6 linked regions of the Homo sapiens genome follow. The protein of the gene in region 2 purifies or fractionates together with the protein of the main gene of each other region. This does not show direct contact. Each region holds a gene or a part of one and is shown on either strand. Other genes may lie near its edges.

The links.
Region 1: the proteins of IRAK2 (region 2) and FASTKD5 purify together in Homo sapiens (affinity purification with mass spectrometry; one large-scale study listed by BioGRID and IntAct). This does not show direct contact.
Region 3: the proteins of IRAK2 (region 2) and IQSEC1 purify together in Homo sapiens (affinity purification with mass spectrometry; one large-scale study listed by BioGRID and IntAct). This does not show direct contact.
Region 4: the proteins of IRAK2 (region 2) and SUB1 purify together in Homo sapiens (affinity purification with mass spectrometry; one large-scale study listed by BioGRID and IntAct). This does not show direct contact.
Region 5: the proteins of IRAK2 (region 2) and RNF152 purify together in Homo sapiens (affinity purification with western blotting, with the first as the bait; one study listed by BioGRID). This does not show direct contact.
Region 6: the proteins of IRAK2 (region 2) and ZC3H12C purify together in Homo sapiens (affinity purification with mass spectrometry; one large-scale study listed by BioGRID and IntAct). This does not show direct contact.

Annotation. Positions count from the first base shown.
Region 1 is NC_000020.11:3,146,019-3,149,865, forward strand, and holds the end of FASTKD5 (FAST kinase domain-containing protein 5, mitochondrial), read right to left. Parts: intron 3,243-3,847; 5' UTR 3,053-3,242; coding exon 758-3,052; 3' UTR 501-757; downstream 1-500. UniProt on the Homo sapiens protein: Plays an important role in the processing of non-canonical mitochondrial mRNA precursors.
Region 2 is NC_000003.12:10,213,419-10,216,918, reverse strand, and holds part of IRAK2 (interleukin-1 receptor-associated kinase-like 2), read right to left. Parts: intron 3,436-3,500; coding exon 3,371-3,435; intron 1-3,370. UniProt on the Homo sapiens protein: Binds to the IL-1 type I receptor following IL-1 engagement, triggering intracellular signaling cascades leading to transcriptional up-regulation and mRNA stabilization.
Region 3 is NC_000003.12:12,896,543-12,899,486, forward strand, and holds the end of IQSEC1 (IQ motif and SEC7 domain-containing protein 1), read right to left. Parts: 3' UTR 2,893-2,944; coding exon of another isoform or gene 2,848-2,892; 3' UTR 501-2,847; downstream 1-500. UniProt on the Homo sapiens protein: Guanine nucleotide exchange factor for ARF1 and ARF6. Guanine nucleotide exchange factor activity is enhanced by lipid binding. Accelerates GTP binding by ARFs of all three classes.
Region 4 is NC_000005.10:32,592,057-32,595,556, reverse strand, and holds part of SUB1 (activated RNA polymerase II transcriptional coactivator p15), read right to left. Parts: intron 1-3,500.
Region 5 is NC_000018.10:61,813,008-61,816,507, forward strand, and holds part of RNF152 (E3 ubiquitin-protein ligase RNF152), read right to left. Parts: 5' UTR 3,457-3,500; coding exon 2,845-3,456; 3' UTR 1-2,844. UniProt on the Homo sapiens protein: E3 ubiquitin-protein ligase that acts as a negative regulator of mTORC1 signaling by mediating ubiquitination of RagA/RRAGA and RHEB.
Region 6 is NC_000011.10:110,134,892-110,138,391, reverse strand, and holds part of ZC3H12C (probable ribonuclease ZC3H12C), read right to left. Parts: intron 1,730-3,500; coding exon 978-1,729; intron 1-977. UniProt on the Homo sapiens protein: May function as RNase and regulate the levels of target RNA species.

The sequences.
Region 1 (3,847 bases), on a different chromosome or scaffold from region 2:
CTGGGCAACCGAGGGAGACTCCGTCTCAAAAAAAAAAAAAAGGCCAGACGCGGTGGCTCACACCTGTAATCCCAGCATTTGGGAGGCCAAGGCAGGCGGATCACCGGAAGTCAGGAGTTCAAGACCAGCCTGGTCAACATGGAGAAACCCCGTTTCTGCTAAAAAGACAAAAATTATCCAGGTGTAGTGATACGCGCCTGTAGTCTCAGCTACTCGGGAGGATGAGGCAGGAGAATTGTTTGAATCTGGGAGGCGGAGGTTGCAGTGAGCTGAGATTGTGCCACTGCATTCCAGCCTGGGTGACAGAGCGAGACTCCATCTCAAAAAACAAACAAAAAAACTGGCTTTAAAAAAAAAAAAAATCTGTAAGGGTGGGGGGAGGGTCTCCAGAAAAGAATAAAATTTTTAAAAATTGGCTTTATATAATGTCTGACTATACTTTTATTCTAAAAACTCTGTGACATAAGGCTGGTAAACAGAAAGAAAAATCCAACAAGGACTTACTTGACCGTAGGACATATTAAGATGTTTATTATTTACTAAGAGTAACATGTATACATTTGCAGTAATTTGTACAATCCAACTACATTACAATTCACAGTAACATACACTAGCTCTAACCTGCCTTGGATACAATTAAGTCTCCTCAACACACTATTTTATCGCCAAACTTACATTCTGGCTTTTATAATCATTTTGCAACACCTGGTACAGTATACACCTATAGCTTTGCCATAGAAATGCCCCTAAATGCCCTTCAGAGAGCAGAGGTGAATACTTTCTCATGAAGAAACGCCAACTTTTCTAAGCGAGTTCGTTTCAGTAGTGGGAGCCATTCCCAGTAGGATAACTCTACCACACGGTAGCCAAGCCGAGCCAGCTGCCGCCTCTTCATATTGTGCAGTCCAAGGAGATCCCTGGAGCCATAGCAATACTGGTTCCTGTTTGTGAACTGAACAGCCAGCTTCATTCTTGGGGTCTGCATGCAGGCTGCGGGGCACAGGCCAGCCATCTCCATGGCCCCTGATTTATCTGCTACATTGCAAAGGAAGCCCCCCAGAGGTACAGCTGCCTTATTCTCCAACTCCATGGGCTGCTGCCCAGGCTCTGACTCAGTTTTGCCCTGGAAATGTCCTCTTGCTTTCCCTTTTAGTAACTTATTCATCAAATCATCTGTAAGGCTGACTCCCACATGCTCAAGCCTTAATTTGGCTACATTTTCAGCCGGCGTGGCTTCTCTATTAAATGGTAATGGCTTCAGGTTAACATCAAGCTGGACCTCTAAGTCAGAAGATCGGGTATGAGGCAAAATCATATGGTGCTTGACGTACTGGGGCCCCCCCAGCATGGTCTCCAGTAAAAAGACAGTTTCTAAGAATTCAGGCTTTGAATTCATATCCTTCTCTGCTAAATACCACAGCAATTCAGACCCCTCTTGCTGAAGGTGAGTACTAAGACGATTGCCTCTGTAATCTGGACACTCAATGCCAACTGTACCATCGAGGGTATATAGTTCCTTAAGGAGGTCAAACTTAGTTCTCTCCTGAGCTAACCTGACAAACCCTGGACTGAGAGCGAAATCAATTAACTCTACTGGAAAGTACTCCAAAAATGCCAGGCCCAGCAGGCAGGTGGGCAGGTGTTCTGGGTACTGGTTGAATTCAGGCATCTTTCTGTGAATCTCACTTATCAGGCTGGAGTAAAATTCTTCTGCATTGGGTGGCTTATAATTCAGAGTTCCAAATGACCACAGAATCTTGGCAACATCTTTACTTCGACAGTGTGCCACTCTAGGAGGCAAAGACGCAGCCACTGCATTCATTACTCCTTCATTCAGGAAGCGTAAGGCCGAGCAGTAAAGAGTCAGGTGCATGACACCTTGAACTCCCAGGGAAGGAATTCGCTGAGGAGCTATCTCTCCAATCTGCTTCATGAAATTGATGTGATCCACGTGAGTGAAACGGAACATTTTAACAATATTCACTAAGGAGCGACTACTCAGATGCTGAATGTTAGCACAAGCCAAGTCTCCAATTTTCCGCATGACAAATTCAGAGAGATTAGTACTTGATTTAAAGAACCCCAAACAGATGGTACCAACCTCCTCCAAATTGATCAAATCTATATATTTAAGGATCAATGATTCCAATTTTTGCATTAGGTCCTGGGATACCTGACGATTTTCACCTATAACATAAATTAAGTGAACTAGCTGAGACAAGGATAGATCCTTCCAGTGCAAATTAAGATAACTAGAAAAAATGTTTAAAAACCTAGGTACTTTGCGGCCTAAGTACCTCCAGAGATCAGCCACCAAAAGGAGCTGATCCATATTCATCTCCCATACCTGATGGCAACACTTGGTCTCATACACATCTAGCATTGAATGGGAGTGAGGGATTCCTAAAATGACAAAAGCTTTCAAAACATTGATCAGATCTTGGGTATCAAAGAGCTGTATCTTCTTCACACTCAGCTGGCAGAGCAGAGCAAAGCTGGTACTGCCCAGCAAGACAGGATGCTGCTCTGCAGGCAAAGAGCTCAGCTTACACAAATAATCAACAATGACTTGAGCCTGGAGATTATTTTGATTAACTCTGACTTTGTGCAAAATTAGTTCACCTTCTGAAACAGACAGGAGCTGAGAAGTCTCAGATGCATTATAGCTGTGAACACGGTATTCTGGTCTTAGCTGTAGGAAAACTCGCATGTTTTCAAAGGAATCAAACACTTCTACGTCCTCTTCATCAACTCCTGTGGCCCTGGGTGAGCCCAGCTGCAATGTACTGGCCTTAGAGGAAGAAGTCTTGCTGAATTCCAAACCTGGGTGGGCACTGCTGGTTGTCAGGATTCTCCGAGAAGAGAAGGTGCTACATATGTTCTTAACTTTTTTGGCAGAATGGCAGAGGCTAATGTGTTCTGGAGGGTCCTGTCCCCCATGCTGTGTGCTGCTCACATTCCAGTATGACACACTTCGGACTGCACCAAAGGCAGAAGGACTGCAAAATGCTCGGTATCTTACAAGTTTTAATGACTTGAGAGTAGCTGCCATTCTGGTGTCAGTATTGATCTCTTTGGCAGTCAGAATACAGTCCTCACAGATTTGACCAGGCAATTTCTTGTTTATATGGTGCTTGATTAGAGCTGGACGGGGAGGTGTTCCACAAAAACTGCCTGGAAATCTTCAGCATATCACAAGAGCCAGGGATCACAAATGACTGGGTCAGAATTGGTGCCAGATACTGAAAAAAGGGTAGATGAAGAATGAGTGGCTTCTACCTATAAAAGCATCCAAATTTACACATTATAAAAAACAGGTTGAAACTACACTGCTGTCTACTCAAATAAGTTCAATGCTAGTAAATGCCCAAACCACATGACAGCATATATCAAGGATAAATTCTGCGGTCTGTGTAAAGGCCTAGGAAAACCCCCAACCCAGGGTACCCGTGGGCAGTTCCTGGACTGCTGCTCACCAGACTTCCTTCACTGTACAAGGCAAGCAGTGACGGCTAAAGAAGAGACGGTGCTCCGCTAACATTTGATAGGAAGAAGGAAGGCAGATTTCTAGAAAGAAGGCTGGGAACAAAAGTGAGCAACTCCTTCCATCTCTTTGATATCAAGGCAAACAGGTCCTACCTGAAGAATGTTTATAAAAACTGCTATGCTAACAGCACTAAGTAAAAAGTGGGATCTGGTATAAAAGATAATTAGTTGGCTGGGTGTGGGTGGCTCATGCCTGTAATGCCAGCACTTTGGGAGGCCGAGGCAGGCAGATCACTTGAGGTCAGGAGTTCAAGACCAGCCTGGCCAACAAGGCGAAATCCCGTCTCTATTAAAAATACAA
Region 2 (3,500 bases):
AGTGCAGGTGTGAGGAGTCAGACGGAAAGAATGATCTACTTCCTCATGTCCCACCCCTCTTCTGCCCTCTCCTCCTCCAACGCCACCAATAACCTCCCAGGTACCACATACTCTGACCCCTAAGGGCCTGGCCCCAGGGTGGAAAGATGAAAACTGTCTGCCTTCAACGAGTATGGTGGTCCTCATCCTGCTTTACTGCTCTGCAACACATGACATCTCAACTGCCCCATCTCCAGAAACGGAGACTGAGAGGTTAAGGGACTTGCCCAAGGTCACAAACTAGAAAGCAGTAAAGCCAGGACCAGATCCCACACCTGCCTGACTCTAGGACTGGGGTTCTTTCCTGAAATCCTCTTCTGCTGGTTCTCAGTCACCATTCCCTCCTGACTTTCCTCCTACCTCTCTGACCACTCTTTCCTGGCCCTTTTCACTAAGACCCTCCTCCTTTGCCTTCCTCTTTCTGCCAGCTGGACTCCTCATCTTGTTTTGTATGTTGCTCCTCCAGGAACCTCCCATTGCTATAAGGAATATTCCCAAATCTCTTATCTCCAGCCCCATCCTAAGCTCCAGACCTGAATGTCAATTTGCATCCTGATGCTCAGGTCAACATCATCCTAGCCTCAACAAGTCCCAAACCTGCTTCTTCACCCATATTTATTATCCCAGAAAGGCACATCACCACCCACCCAGTTTCCTAGAAACCTTCTTATCTCCCGTATCAAATCAGTCACCATTCACTGCCACAAATAACTTTTAAAATGTCCCTTCATTCCCCTCTCCTCTGCCTTGGGTCACTTGGATTGGGTCAGGCTCTGATTCAGCCTCCCCAAGACTGCTGTAAATGGCCTCCTGCCTTATCTCTCCGCCCTCCTCTGCTTCCCGCAAGCCATCCTATTACTCGCTTTTGCATACTTATTAGAGTTATTTACATGTCAGTCTCCCCACTGGACCATAAACCTCCCCAAGGCAGGGGCTCTGTATGCTTCTGGCGTACACTCCCTAGAGCCTAGAAAAGGGCTTAACTACCCACATTTTCTGAATCAATGAATGAAGGAGTGACTGCCGACTCCATGAAAGCACTAAGCCAAAGTGGAAAGGGAATCATACTTCCAGTTTTTATTAGATGTATGTGTGTGTGTGTATCTGTGTGTGTGTGTGTGTGTGTGTACACATGTGAGTATTCATATACATGTATGAATAGAGAAAGCATTAAAGAAAACATATCAAAATATGGGCCCAGCACAGTGGCTCACATCTAAAATCCCAACACTTTTGGAGGCCAAAGCAGGAGGATCACTTGAGCCAGGGAGTTCAAAACCAACCTGGGCAACATAGTGAGATCGTGTCTCTACAAAAAAAGTTTTAACAATTAAAAATGAAAATATATCAAAATATTAAAACAGTAGTGCTTATTTATAGGTGCTGTGAAAAAGTTTCTATTTTCTTATTTATAATTTTCTTTATTCCTTTTTAAATTTGTTTTACTTTTTAATTAATTAATTAATTTTTTTTTTTTTTTTTTTTTGAGACAGAGTCTCACTCTATTGCCCAGGCTGGAGTGCAGTGGTGCGATCTGGGCTCACTGCAACCTCCACTTTCTGGGCTCAAGTGATTCTCATGCCTCAGCCTCCTGAGTAGCTGGGACTACAGGTGCATGCCAACACACCAGGCTGATTTTTGTATGAATTTTTTTTAGTAGAGATGAGGTTTCGCCATGTTGGCCAGGCTGGTCTCAAACTCCTGACCTCAACTGATCTGCCCACCTCGGCCTCCCAAAGTGCTGGCATTACAGGTGTGAGCCACCATGCCTGGCCTTTATTTATTTTTGAGACAGAGACTCACTTTGTTGCCCCGGCTGGAGTGTAGTGTCATGATCTCGGCTCACTGCAACTTCTGCCTCCTGGGCTCAAGTGATCCTCCCATCAGCCTCCTGAGTAGCTGGGACTGCAGGCATACACCACCACACCCAGCTAATTTTTGTATTTTTTGTAGAGACGGGGTTTTGCCATGTTGCCCAGCTGATCTTGAACTCCTGGACTTAAGTGATCCACTCGCCTCAGCCTCCCAAAGTGCTGGGATTATAGGTGCGAGCCACCATGCCCAGCCAAAAAAAGTTTTTGTATATATATTTTTTTCAGTTGAGACAGGGTCTCGCTATGTTGCCCAAGCTGGTCTCAAACTCCTTGGCTCAAGGAATCCTCTTGCCTCAGCATCAAAGTTCTAGGATTACAGGCATAAACCACCATACCTGGTCAATTTTCTTTATTTTTTAACACTGGTTACAGAATGAACAGATACTCAATTTTCTTTATTTCTTAAAATACCCTACAATATAAGGCACAAGTGTTTCAGATGAAAAATAATTAAAAAAAAAAAAAGCACACACATGGCAGGGCACAGTGGCTCACACCTATAATCCCAACATCTTGGGAGGTCAAGGCAGGAGGATCACTTGAGCCCGGGAGCTCAACACCAGCCTGGTCAACATAGCAAGACCCTATCTCTACAAAAAAAAAAAAAAAAAAAAGCAAAAAATGAGCTGGGCGCACACCTGTAGTCCCAGCTTCTCAGAGGCTGAGGTGGGAGGATCACCAGCCCATGAGTTCAAAGCTGCAGTGATCTACAATCATTCCAAGGCCATTCCAGCCTGGGCAATAGAGCAAGACCCTAGCTCTTAAAAAAGAAAAAAAAGTCAGGCACGGTGGCTCACGCCTGTAATCCCAGCACTTTAGGAAGCCAAAGCAGAAAGATCACTTGAGGTCAGGAATTTGAGACCATCCTGGCCAACATGTCAAAACCCCGTCTCTACTAAAAATATGAAAATTAGCCGGGCCTGGTGGCGCACGCCTGTAATCCCAGCTACTCGGGAGGCTAAGGCACGAGAATCACCTGAACCTGGTAGGCAGAGATTGCAGTGAGCCGAGATCACGCCACTGCACTCCAGCCTGGGAGACAGAGCAAGACTCTGTCTCAAAAAACAAAAAAAGAAAAGAAAAGAAAAAAAAAAAGGAGAGAAGATTTATTCCCATGTGGAAGGAAGGAGTTGGAGTAAGCCAAGTTTCCTTTATAATTCTAATCTACACATAGAATTGCTACACAGGAGAAGAATGGACTCTGGAGCCAAACCAGGTAGATCCAAATCCTGGCTCTGCCACTCATTAGCTGTGTGACCTTGGATGAGACATTTAACCCCTCTGTGCCTCAATTTACCCATCTGTAAAATAATGTGATAATAGTAGCTACATTTATAGGGTTCTTGTAAGGACTAAATGAGTTTATATATAATAGAGTGCTTAAAACATGACTGGGCACACAGGAAGCACTATATAAAGGTTAGCTATCATTATTACTAAACAAAGGGGAGGCTTACCTAAGACAAATCTGCAACTCTGCCTGGAAGAATCTTTCGATTGATCCTGGACTTGAACAGGCTGTCTGTAGAGAAAGACATCAGAACATGAAGATCCCGCCCCACCCCTGCAGCCTCCACCCCCACTAGA
Region 3 (2,944 bases), 2.7 Mb from region 2:
GTAGTGGCTATGAATGAGACTGGAAGAGGGGGCCCCTGTGAGAACATCTTTCAATCAGAATGTGCTGTACGGAGGGAGGGCCAGAGTTCATTTTGGTCACCAAAATTAACTTTTTTTTGTTTGGTTTTCCACTAGTTAGATCTGCCAGTTCCTTTTATCCCATGCACTGAAAGTTTAAAGTGGTGTTCTCAGGAATTATGTTTGGCCAGGAAAGGAGAAATCGCAGAAGCCAATTACATCCTCACAGGCCCCTTCCTTCCAGGAGAATGACTTTACCATCTTGGCTTTTGTACATGATATGAGCCAACATGGAAACGCAGGCTGCTCTGAACTCCTGTCATCATCCATCTTTACTGGGGACTGGGCCACTGGGTATTTTTTTCCCTAAGTCATAATCAGTGTACCTCAACGCTTAATAGAATTCATCCCCTCTAACTCCATGAAAGGACCATCACTTGTTGAAAGTTGCTAGAAATTATAAATACCTTTGAAACCTTCTATTGGTTGTGATGTGTCCCTTTATTTTAAATTTTGTATCAGTGTCCTCAGTCAGTCCAATGTCTTCAAGGAAAGTGAGTGCCCAGAGTCACAACAAGTAATGGGGAAACTCATCAGCTGGAGATCTGGGTCTGGCCAACAGGGCAACTTCTGGACTTTTCAGAAAAAGTGAGAATCCGAGAGTTTCAAAGGATTTATTTGATTTCCCCACATGATCACAACCATGGTTTTACATTGATAGAGTCTGTTGCCACTGACAAACAGAATGCAGATGAAAACAAACGCACTCCTTTCCTCTCAAAGGTACACAGTGGGGGTGCCAGGCTTCTTGTGAGGGAGGTGTCCCTTGAAGTCTCTGAACAGTCTGGGGATTCAGGACCTGATTCTAATTGCTTAAAACAACTCGGAGGCAAAAGATATTTTCCAAGAGGAGATGCATGCTGTGTGCAGTCTCGATGTGACTGCACACAGAAGGGCGATGCAGATGCATCTGAATGGAGGGCAGGCCTCCTCCCTCTTGTCCTGTGCTCAGCACCCCCACCTCACCCTGCTCAGTGTTGCAATGCTGCCTTGACTATTGTTGTTACATAAAATACAAATGTACTCGTTTCTCAGGCAGGAAGGGTGATGATATTTTACAAGGAGAACTGTAAGACTGTGCGTGCTTACCTGCGGGCACAGAGCTTCCCGTGGCGCTGAGTCAACACCCAGCATCAGCTGTGAACATCTGCTGTCTTTTCAGCTCATTAAGAAAAACAAGAGGCTCCTGCTGCATGCAGTGTGTGAGGGAAAGATCACTGCACTGGGTGCTGAAGACATTTTTAAGCAAGATGTGCACAGCATATTAGGATGAACTTTATTTTTACATTGTTGTACAATTCATTGGTAAACTTAAAAAAATACAAATACATGATTTGATTGTTGTCCCAGAAAAGACTTTTGTCACATTGCCAGCTGTTTCCCTCAGCGTCTCCTGCTCCTGTCAGCAATTCTGTATGTAACTGCAGTAATTTGTGTGACTTGAGAAAGGTGTGCCAAGGGCGTCCTCACAGTGAGAAGGGACCAGGCAGACATCCTGGGGCCCTCGGCCTCCTCCTGCCTCCCCTCCCAGGGGATGTGATGACAGGACCCCGAAGCTGTGGCTCTGACAGGTGGGATCTCTAAAGGGGACAGTCCCATGAAAGACACACGGGGACACCAGCTCACTGGGAGCTTTTGCTTTCCCAAACAAGATGTGGGCAGCATGACTCCAGCCTCTGGAACCCAACAATGTATCTTCCACAAACTTTTGATAAGCTTGCAAATAAAACAGAATGAAACCTCACTAGCCTGAAGGAACACACTGAGTGCGGCGGGAAACCCCGGGAAGGGCTCAGTGGGTTCCAGCAGTTCCTTACGCGAGGCCCTGCTGCCCAGCACAGCTCCAGGACACACCGAGGACAGTGCCACAGGCTGGCAGCCCGAGGCTGTGGAGCTTGCAGGATGGCGATGGAGAGGGAGAGTTTCCTGAAAGCCCCTCCTGGGGTTTTCTGTCTGTTCCTATTCATTACTGCTACCCTTCAGAAAGAGCAATTCTGTGCCAAACGGCCTGAATCTTTTCTGGAACAACCTAAAGGTTACAGTTAGACTCTCCTCCCAGCACAGAAGAGGGTGAGAAAAGCTGACATACTCAATATGTAATCGCTTTACTTCAACGATGTGTTTACAGTCACGCCAATACATTTTGCAAACGCACAACACGCAGAGCGCAGCCTCACAGCTGACGCCAGATGACATGCAGCAGTTTAACGCTTCCAGGTCGGAACAGCCTCCTCAAAATTGCGAGACAGAGTGCTTTGGGGAGCCTGGCTTTTAAAAAAGACCCGAGAATTGATGAGTCGGAGACACCAGGGCGCTTCCCTGACAGCCCAGCCTGGACCCAATCACACGGTCCCATGCTGTTTCTTTCTGAGCAGACACCAAAGAAATGCCACGCCAATGGGAGGACACAGGTGGGCGGGTTAAAGTCACATTTTTAAAAAGGCTAAACTCTAGATTGCTGTATTTGCTCTCTCTGGAGATTAACAAAGTGCTTGGTTTGCAGATTTGCTGGTACGGTGATCTCAATGATATGACCGAGGGTGGGAGGGATGTGAGGAGGGAAATCGGCAAAACCCTGGCCAGCCAGCCAGCCAAGGTGACACACAGCCAGAGGGGGCTCCCCTCTCCTCCTGCCGTCCGGCCACGGCTCACCACGCTGTCCACTGGGAACGCGGCCCCGCGGCCCGCAGAGTCAGGCGTGAGCTTCGCCCTTTCTGAAAGGGCCTCCGCCTGGGCAGGCGCCGGGGGGCAGTCCTCGGGTCCCATGGCTTAGGAGCACAGCACTGACGGCTGCAGTGGCTCGAAAGGCTGAAACTACAAAGTATGGCCCGTGGGTGACTCGGGCACAGACCTGCCGCGTGCAGGT
Region 4 (3,500 bases), on a different chromosome or scaffold from region 2:
AATGGATTTACAAGTTGTAGTATTATCATACAAAATACTACTCAGCAATAAAATTACTGATATATGCAACAAGAACTAATCTCAACACATTATACTGAGCAAAAGCCAGACACAAAAAATAGACTGCATGTATCCATTTATACAAAGTTCTAGAAGAGACAACATAAATCTATAGTGGTAGAAATAAGATCAGTGATTACCTAGGACATGAGCAATGACTGTAAAGCCAAGAGGAACTTCCTGGGGTGATGAAAATGGTCTGGCCACAAAGGCGTGTACATTTACCACAGCCTATCAAGGTATGCTTTTAAATGTGTGCGTTTTATTGGACATAAACTATACCTCAAAAACATTTTTTTTTTTAAAAAAAAAAGGAATCTGCCCAACAGCTGCCTCTCCCTTGGGGGGAAAAAAAGAGTAAAACTGACAAATTCTTATTAGCAAAAATTAAACAAGTGATGAGATAGTAGTATAGGGATATATTACTTAAAGATAGAAAAAATAAAGATCACTGAAATCACATTTTATTGGAAAAAAATAAAATCAGATGACAATATATTTTATATCCACAAAATCTGGAGATTAGCAGCAAAAAATAGCATATACATCATAAAGAACTGTGATTCTTATACGAATTTGATTCCCTGTCCCCTCTGAAGATCTGATAAAGCAGTGGTTCCTAACCTTTTTGGCACCAGGGACCAGTCTCACGGAAGACAATTTTTCCACAGCAGGTAGGGAAGGGGAAAGGTGATCGTTTCAGGATAAAAATTATCCCACCATCAGGCATTAGATTCTCATAAGGAATAAGGAACGCACAACCTAGATCCCTTGCATGCGCAGTTCACAATAGGGTTCGCGCTCCTATGAGAATCTAATGCCGCTGCTGATCTGACAGGAGGCAGAGCTCGGGCTGCAATGTTCACTCACACACCGCTCACCTCCTGTGCAGGAGGGACCCCTGTGATAAAGGTTATGAATAATTCCTTCAAACACAAAAAAGAAAACTCAAATTAAAAAACAATTCTATGGACTCCTGCCCCAGATTAAAATGACCAGTTATAATCATTTTAAATTAAATAATTTAAAAGTATCAAGTATCCTTAAATCATCAAATAAACTAAAGCAGTATTACTGACCCTTTGTGCCTAACTCTGAAGAAAAATATGGATTAAAGTTTCCTGCCTCAACTATTCTGACCTTTCAAGACACAGGTACTAAATAATTATGAGATAATTCTCCAGTCTCTTTACTATCACAGATGTCACCTCAGGTAGACTACATCCCTATGGAAGAAAGTTCTTCAAAATCAGAGCTGAAGGAACCAGGAAGTAAGCATCTCTAGTATCTTCTCTCTAGTCACGATTCTGCCCCAATCACTTCAGACTTTAAAAGATAAGTCTATTGATTTTTCTTTGGTACAACTCTTTAATACATTTAGAGAACTGCTTATGTATTGATGTTTGATGTACATCAAGCTGTAATGGCAATGAAATTAAGTATCATATTATTTCATAATGCCTACACTACTAGATCCATGAAAGCCACTCTGAAAATAAGGCCTAGGCTGGGCGCCGTGGCTCACACCTGTAATCCCAGCACTTTGGGAGGCCAAGGCAGGCAGATGGCGAGGTCAAGAGATCGAGACCATCCTGGCCAACCAGGTGAAATCCCGTCTCTACTAAAAATACAAAAATTGGCTGGGGGTGGTGGCGCATGCCTGTAGTCCCAGCTACTCAGGAGACTGAGGCAGGAGAATCTCTTGAACCCAGGAGGCGGAGGTTGCAGTGAGCCGAGATTCGTGCTACTGCACTCCAGCCTGGTGACAGAGCGAGACTCCGTCTCAAAAAAAAAAAAAAGAAAAGATGACCTATGTTCCTCCTAGAGGCAGGCTTTCAAAAGGTGCAATGTCAGCCTTAGGAGGCTTAGGAATCTTTCCAGATGAGGGTTTAAGAAATGAAGCTCCGTTTTTCTGGTGAGAAAATTCCTAAAATTAGATCTAGTTTTCACAAAACTCCTCTTAACAGAACAGAATCTCTAAAATGTGTGTTCTGAACTAAATAGTTCATCTGCACTTTGTCTATCTTTTTTACCTAGAAGTATAACAAGGCAAAAATAAGCAATAGGAAAAAAAAAACTTAAATTTTCCCATTCTCACCTTAATCTTGGCACTCCACCTTTCAAAGTTATCAACAGGTCAAAATATACATGTGTTAGCCTTACTTTCTAGTCATATAAATGTCTACAGTCTTGGCCAGTCACGGTGGCTCACGCCTGTAATCCCAGCACTTTCAGAAGCCAAGGTGGGCGCATCACTTGAGCTCAGGAGTTCAAGACCAGCCTGGGCAATACTGTTTCTACCAACAACAAAGAAAATTTGCCAGGCGTCATGGAGCATTGCCTGTAGTCCCAGTTACTCAGGAGGCTGAGGCAGGAGGATCATTTGAGCCCAGGAAGCGGAAGTTGCAGTGAGCAGAGATCACACCACTGCACTCCAGCCTGGGTGACAGAGCAGAGACCCTGTCTCAAAAAAAAAATTGTAGTCTCGTTCCACCCAACTTTTTGGTTTCAACTAATACTTATAGCTCCTGGAAACACTCATCCTTTTCTTGCTCCCATTACTGCACTCTTCTAATTTTCCTTCACCCTCTCTCTTAACCTACATCCTCTTTTTCCTTCCATTCTCTATCTGAATATAACCCAAGACATCCCCTCATCTGCTTCCTGTTCTTCCTCTGTTTAATACTTCAGTAGGCAGCTTTAGTCAACCATGCTGATAATCCCACATGAACATTTCCCAACTAAGCCCTTCAGGTGCTACAGAAGCAACACCATTTTTTTTTTCAATCACATCCACAATCAAGTCCACATCTTCACTGACTGCCTAATTCCTCTGGTCCATTCTTCCTAACCTGTATCTTGTAATTGGCATAATTTCTTCTTTAGGAAAAACCATCTAAGCCCTTATCACCTCACATACAGATTAAAGCCTACAATTACCTAAGCAATCTCACCTGCATTCATTTATTCCCCAACATCCCTTCCTCACAAATCCTTCTTGTACAAAGATGCCAGTGTCAAGTCTCCCTAAAACAAGACAGGAAACCCAAGAGAAAAAGCTATACGAGTCCTCTCTAGGTGATTTCATCAAGTCCCTCTAATGAACTTCCTTCACTTTATCTATTCAACCCATTCCCCTTTTCTGTTGCTCATCAGGCCAAAATTAGGCATGTCACATTGCTGCTTCCTGTCCCATAATAATCTATTCATACTTTACTGTCCCAACACTTGACCTGCCTCCTCCAAGTTGCTTTCAAAATGTGCAGTTCTCAATTAAATTTGCATTGGTTTAAATACAGCAAAACTAGACTTTAGAGACTTTAACAATAATCCAGCATCGTACAAAATACTTTTACTAGTTTGTTCTATTTTAATAAATGTCCCTAGTTAAGAAGATTGTAACATACATATTAGGCAATTATCAGATCATAGTACTTTTA
Region 5 (3,500 bases), on a different chromosome or scaffold from region 2:
ACAAAACGGACTCATCTACAAAATGAAGCCACCGGAGGCTGCTTTCAGCTCTTTCTGTGCTTTCCAGTTGTGACTTTTCATTAATGTGCAAGTATGAATCCTGGCCTCTTGTGTCAGTGGACTTTGGTCACATGGGTAGATGTGTTTGTTAAGGGTCATTGGTAAATGCCAGAAGAGGCCAGAGCAATGGGATGCCAAGCAACATTAAAACATCATTAAGCCTATAAAATTCTATCTGGGAGACTGAGATTCTCTCTCTCTCTCTCTCTCTCACACACACACACACACACACACACACACACACACACATACACAAGAATGCACACCCCAACAAACAGGTACACAAATAACTGCAAGCAGATCCATTTAAACAATTTAAACAATGTTTCTTAGGTCAGTAAGACTCACAAAAAAAATCTGATTTTGGTTGTTGTTGTTAAATTTAAGGTCAAGAATCTACCATACAGCCGATTAATTTTGCACTGCTTAATGGCAACTCTAGCATGGGATTGTTTTTAAGTAAAAGTTCTATGGACATTTTTACTCTACAGATTTGCACTAAGAAACACAGGACACTATCATCACACACATTAGTGTCTATATCTAACCTACTTTAACAAGTAGAACTCTATCACGTACTATACTACAGGGTCAGTCATTTCACACTGTACAGAAACATATGCAGATATCACTCACAAAATTAATCTGAATATGGCATAGCTTAAAATTGCAAGGGCAAAGTCTATTCGAAATGTAGCATTCTTAATGCAACACTTCTGTGGTGTGTGTGTGTGTGTATTTTCCTCCAAGAGAAATAGAAATTAGGTCAGACATGCATTATGGCAGCCTGGGAGAGTTTGAGAAATTGACACTAACCCAACAGTATATTATGTTATGTAATAGAGGATAGTATTCAGCTAATATGACACCTAAATTATTAATACCAAATAAATCCTAGATTATTTGTTGTATAATGCCCAAGAGCTTACACAATAAAATGGCATTTTAACCTAATTTCTATTTTGAGCTTTCAAATACATTTCCTAAAGGTTTTATGATCAATTTGAAAAATCAGAGCTCACAATTTTATGTTGAATTCTCATGCCAATTAGCAGTATTAGCTTTGTATTCTAGCCATTATATTTTTGTTTTATTTCACATTAATTCCATCACTTTTATATGCATATTTTGTGCTGCTTGAAGATAACAGACAGCATGTAAATAAATTAAATTGTCTTGACCTCACAGGGCTATTTTCTAGCCTTGCTTTTTGGAATTAGCCCTGCTTGTCTTTCCTTCACTTCCCCCCACCCTCCTCACCATTTTCAGGGATTCAGTGGAACATAAAAACAGTTATATTTATAAGTGGAGTCCTTGTCACATACCACTTGCTTCATGAATTCCATAAAAGAAGTTAGATGAGAGCTGTAAAGCTCACAGCTATTTCTGAATGCACATGCACCCAGGGATAGGAATTTATCACGTACTTGTAGCAGATCTTTCTTCATGAGCATCTATAGATCATTACACATTTAAGAACATTTGACAGTTTATGAGGAACTGGTCCACTTATATTGGGAATTTGAGCTGTTAGTTTACCTTGCCACCTTTCTTGGTAAAAACGTGTTAAAATACAGGAGATCTTCTCTCATATCAACAAGAGGAAACAGGAATTCTAACTGGCTTAACTCTTGTGGAAGAGCATCTTTCAAAAAAGAATCACAGGCCATTTATTAAAATGCCCGCCTGGGTTGACCATCAGTCACAACACTCATGGCCAGTGCAAGACTCCAAAACCAGGAGAAAAGACACTCTTCTGTTACTCTCCATTTGCCTCTTACAAAATGCAGGACTTAAATACACAGAAGAGGAGCGAGTGTTGCAGGTGACGTGTAGGAGACCACTCGCTGGGTCAAGATGTCCAAGAAGTGGCCACCGCTTCAGAGACTTGACTCATTCATGCCCAATGAAGTCTTCATCCCAGGATTCTTCAGCAAAGACTCAAACACCTGAGGTAAATCAAATTAGACACACACACATACACACACAAATACACAATATTTACATTTGAAATTCTTATTTTGTGAGATGGCTTGAGGAAAATCGGCATACAGGTTTTCCCATGGGATTAGACATTTCTCATGATTTCTCGGTTTATTGCTCCCCTGTTGAGCTTTCAGTTCCATAAACACGTAGCAAGCTCTAATTACAAGTGAAGAAAATGAAGGTTCATGACAAAACACAACACATTGGAGACACTTGTTCAAATATTTCCTCCAAATAAAATGACTGTCCATTTTGACTTATTTTGTTTTGGTGCCATTCAAAATGTATTAAAAGCCTTAGCAACTAAATGAAGACTGGGTTTCAATAAAAAGAAAAAAAAAATAAAGAAGCCAGCAGTGCATGTCTTCACTGAATTTTTACACGGATTCGCAGGTTTAATTCTACTTGTCTACAGAGCATCTTTGTTTGAATCTACCGCATTTAGAGAAGGTCACATTGTACGCACTTGTACAGTTTAACGTCTAAGTAGAATATGTCTATCTTGTAACATGATTTTGAAAAATCATAAATTACAGTCCATTGAATACATGATTATGAGGATGCATGCAATCATCTTCCAAGCTGTTGCCATCAACACTCAGAACAATTCACCTGGTATCTTGTTGAGACCGCACCTTCTGCCCTTTGTGTCTGTCTTGGGGTAATCAAGAGGCAACCCAGAGGCCAGCGCTCAGCACCAAATGGTCAGTGTTGCCCCCCATCTTCTCACTGGGATCTCATCATCAACCTGCTCAACCCCTAAGTTGGCACCCACAAGAGACTTCCCTGCAGCCCTCTTCAGCCACAGGATATCACAGTGAAGCGCTTAGAAATGCAAGACATGTTGTGAAGCACGATGCCGAGGAGGAAGACCAAGACGCAAGCCACCAAGATGACAGTGCACACCCCCGACCAGGTGGAGCTTTTCACCACGCCCCGCCTGTCCTGCTCCTCCTCCACCGCCTCCTGGGGAGCCCCACCTTGCAGAGGCTGCTGTTCAGCAGGGATGGTCACCACGGTGACGGACTTCTGCTGGCTCCCGGGCAGCAGGCGGCAGCCCATGTCTCCGGGCAGCAGCGCACGCTCCTTGGAGATGGGCAGGGGCAGCATGTAGCACCCATTGCTGGGAAGTTTGATGAAGACCGGGGTGTGTTCGGAAGTGTGTGGAATGGCGATGACAGCCAGGACCTCCGGGTCGTCCGGGAGCTGCGACACGGAGAAGCCGGGAGGCAGCTTGGTGACACCGCGGCACCAGGGGCACCGCACATCCTTCTGGCTGGTCCTCATCTGCTGCAGGCACACTGAACAGCAGGTGTGCTTGCAGTCCAGCAACTTGGGCCTGCGCCGGGGGCTGTAGTAATTGAAACAGATCTGACATTCCAGCAGAGAGTCCTGGGACAGCGTCTCCATGGTGGACCGTGAGCAGGAAGGGCAAGGCCAAGGTGAAGGGGAAG
Region 6 (3,500 bases), on a different chromosome or scaffold from region 2:
ATTGTATTTCCCTTGGACAGCACTGATATAGAATCTGCATTTTCCATAAGTCCCTCAGATGATTCTCTGGTAGGCATCATCAGATCACCTTCTGAGAAACTGCATATGAAACTCTAAGCTCTCCAGAGGAAGAACTGATGCTTTTATACACATATCTTTTTATCTTCACAGCGCTCTGAAATTGTGAGCAGTTACCCATAAGCTGATTGAATTTAGATGTGCTTTAAATATTGAGCCATCAAAATCACACAAAAAAATTTCTTTTAAAATTTTATTTTAAATATATATATATATTTTGCTATAGGTAGAGGTGTTTCCCTATGTTGCTCAGGCTGGTCTCAAACTCCTGGCCTCAAATGATCCTTCCATCTTGACCTCTCGAAGTGTTGGGATTACAAGTGTGAGACACCCTGCCTAGCCAAAAAAATTATCACTGAAAGTTTTGCTTTTTTTTCCCCCCAGTTCCTTAAGAATTATTTCTGATTTGAATTTCTTAAATGAAAACAACTCAAATTACAAAACAATTCAAACTACAGCTTTGGTTTTTTCTCAAATCAATAAAATACATAGTTTATTTTCTAGAAGAATTAGGGTTATTTAACTTCCTAAAGAAATAGACCATTTGACTAGATTCTAAAATTGTTGAATATTATCATATCAAATTATTCATTTAAAACTACTGATTAATAGTAAACCAGAAACACACACTAATTTTTATACCATAGAAATTTAGCCAGATGAGGACAAAAAGAGACATATCTGAGAAAAATGGGTCTCTATACGGGGATAAATGAAGTAAAGATGGCTGAGTGCCCTGAAAGAAGAGAGACGGAAAACTAATGTTTTCTAATGTTAACATCAGGATACAGAAAAATGTTGACTTTAATGACCATGAGAAGGAAAAGAGCCACAAAATTAGAAATAAGGCTTTTAAAGATTATTTGGTAGTAATTTTCAGTAACGATTTTTCCACTTACCTCATTGCCACATTGCTGCCATCAATAACTATTGGTCTCAGATTTTCACCATCATCTGTTACAATCTCTTGCATTGGAGATTCAGACCTCTGAGATTCCAGGGAAGAAGTTTCCCGTGTTATAGTGTTAATTGTACTAACCGTTTGATCAGCCTCACTTTTATTTCCAAGTTTGACAAGTTCTCCCAAAATATCATTGATTAAAGCATCAGTACCAAGTTTGTTTAGTACAAGCTGAACCTGTTCTTCAGAATAACCTAACTTAAGTGCAAACTCCAGTTTTGTTTGGTATTCTCGCACCACATCAGGTGGTTTCTTTGCTTCCTTGGATGTAGTCTGGGACTCTTCAGGTTTAAAGTCTTGCAAAATTTCATTGCGCTTGAGTATGTGAGGCTCTAAACAGGGAGACCTGCAGAGCTGTCTGTGAGTCTTAGTTATCAAGCCTGGCTCTACTGAAATGCTACCCAATTGTTCTGACTCATGATCAGAATTTGTGTTTTCTTCAGAGTCACCAGAGCTTGCATTCTCTTCAGACGCCTCTTTTTCATCCTTCCCCACATTAACGGTATCCATACTTGGGTTTTCTACTGTTGACCAAGGTACAGCTGGACTTAACTGTGGGTCAGTGCTCTCCACATAAAGGTGGCCGAGGTCATGCCCTAGGTGATCCTTCAAGCCCATGAAGTTGTTACGTGTACTTGACTCCACTTTGCTGTTTTTTCTGTATTCCTGAATGCAAAGCACCCCGTATTCCTAGAGAAAAATGTAAAATATTTAGAATTTCATAGTTATGGCTAGATTTCTGTCTCAATGGAGAAGTCAGAAGAGAATTACTCAACTACTCAAAATACTTTGTATTTTGTCTACATCCTCTCCTCCCTCCTAACACCCTTGCCAAGAGAGTATCATCTGCCATTTTTCAGATGAAGAAGTCATAAATTAGAAAGGCCATGTAATTCCTCCAAGGCAACAAAGTAAATAAGTAGTAGAACTGTATTTTTTTACCCAGTTTCGTCTGATTCTAAAACCCATGCTTTTCCCACTATATCATGCTCCTTCTCAATCTCGATGGATCAGATTTTTCTACTTTTAGGACGGCTTATAATTCTAGAGTGACACATAGAATATCATCAAAAAGTATGTTTTTAATATGCATGACAGGTTAAAATTTACATTTTTCTCTAACAGAATTCATAAGTATCTATAAATATTCTTTTAAAAAGAAAGCCACATAGAAAGAAACCATTAACTTATACTTGAAAAATCATTATTAATCTGGATGAAGCTTAACAGCAATCTAAAGAACTTTCAAAAATAACATAGATACTGCAATGAAAGAGCACATATTCTAAGATAGACAGAAGGGAATTAAATAATTACAAAGTGAGTTAAATTCTTCTTAAGAGATGAACAGGGTTTTGCCCTAGTAATCATGATTTTTTGACTATGGAACATAGTAACACAATATAATTTCTAGCATTATGCTATCCTTATTAAGTGCCAGGGAAACAACAGTCTATTTCATTCCAGGAAAAGGTAAAAGTTTTATTCTATCTGCACTTACGGAAAGCAGAGATGATATCTCACATAAAATTAGCAGCAAACAATTAGGCATATTAGATAATGTTATCTCAGTTTCTTGAATTTTATGGCAGAAAATCCTCCTGTATTATGTCAGATTAACTAGCCATTAATCTGCATTTGGTTAAAAAGTGATCTTTTTTCCTATTTTTCACCATATAAGAATACTTTTACTATTTAAAATTGGTTTGTTTTTTGCCATTTTACTATTTTTCCTTAAAGACTATTGGAAATGTTATTTCTCTACTAGGAATGGGTTAGGAAAATAAAGCTATTTTCTCTGGTGCTTCATTGTAAGAACTATATCCACATCAAGGATTTACTTTTTTTTTTTTTTTTTTTTTGAGACGGGAGTCTCACTCTGTTGCCCAGGCTGGAGTGCAGCGGTGTAATCTCAGTTCACTACAAACTCTGCCTCCCATATTCAAGTGATTCTCCTGCCTCAGCCTCCTGAGTAGCTGGGATTACAGGTGAGTGCCACCATGCTCGGCTAATTTTTATATTTTTAGTAGAGACAAAGTTTCGCCACGTTGGCCATGCTGGTCTCAAACTCCTGACCTCAAGTGATCTGCCCGCCTTGGCCTCCCAAAATGCTGGGATTACAGGTGTGAGCCACCACGCCTGGCCTCATGATTTACTTGTTAAGGCAATTCTGGTATTCTACGCAGATACAGCATTAGCAAGCCAGCGATAGTTGAATTTCAGACTGCCATAAAAACACCTATTTAAAACTAACCTGAAAAAGAAAACTGAGAAAATGTTTCTAAAGCTCTTCAACATCATATTTACACTAGAAAATAGCTATTATATAAATGTTAAAAGAAAATGCTAAGTGATTTTCTGAGAAGTCACAAATTTGAAAGCATACCTGGTAAACTTTAATTAGAGAGTCAAGTAATGAAATACATTTTATTAACTATGGTAAATACTAGAGAAGAGAACA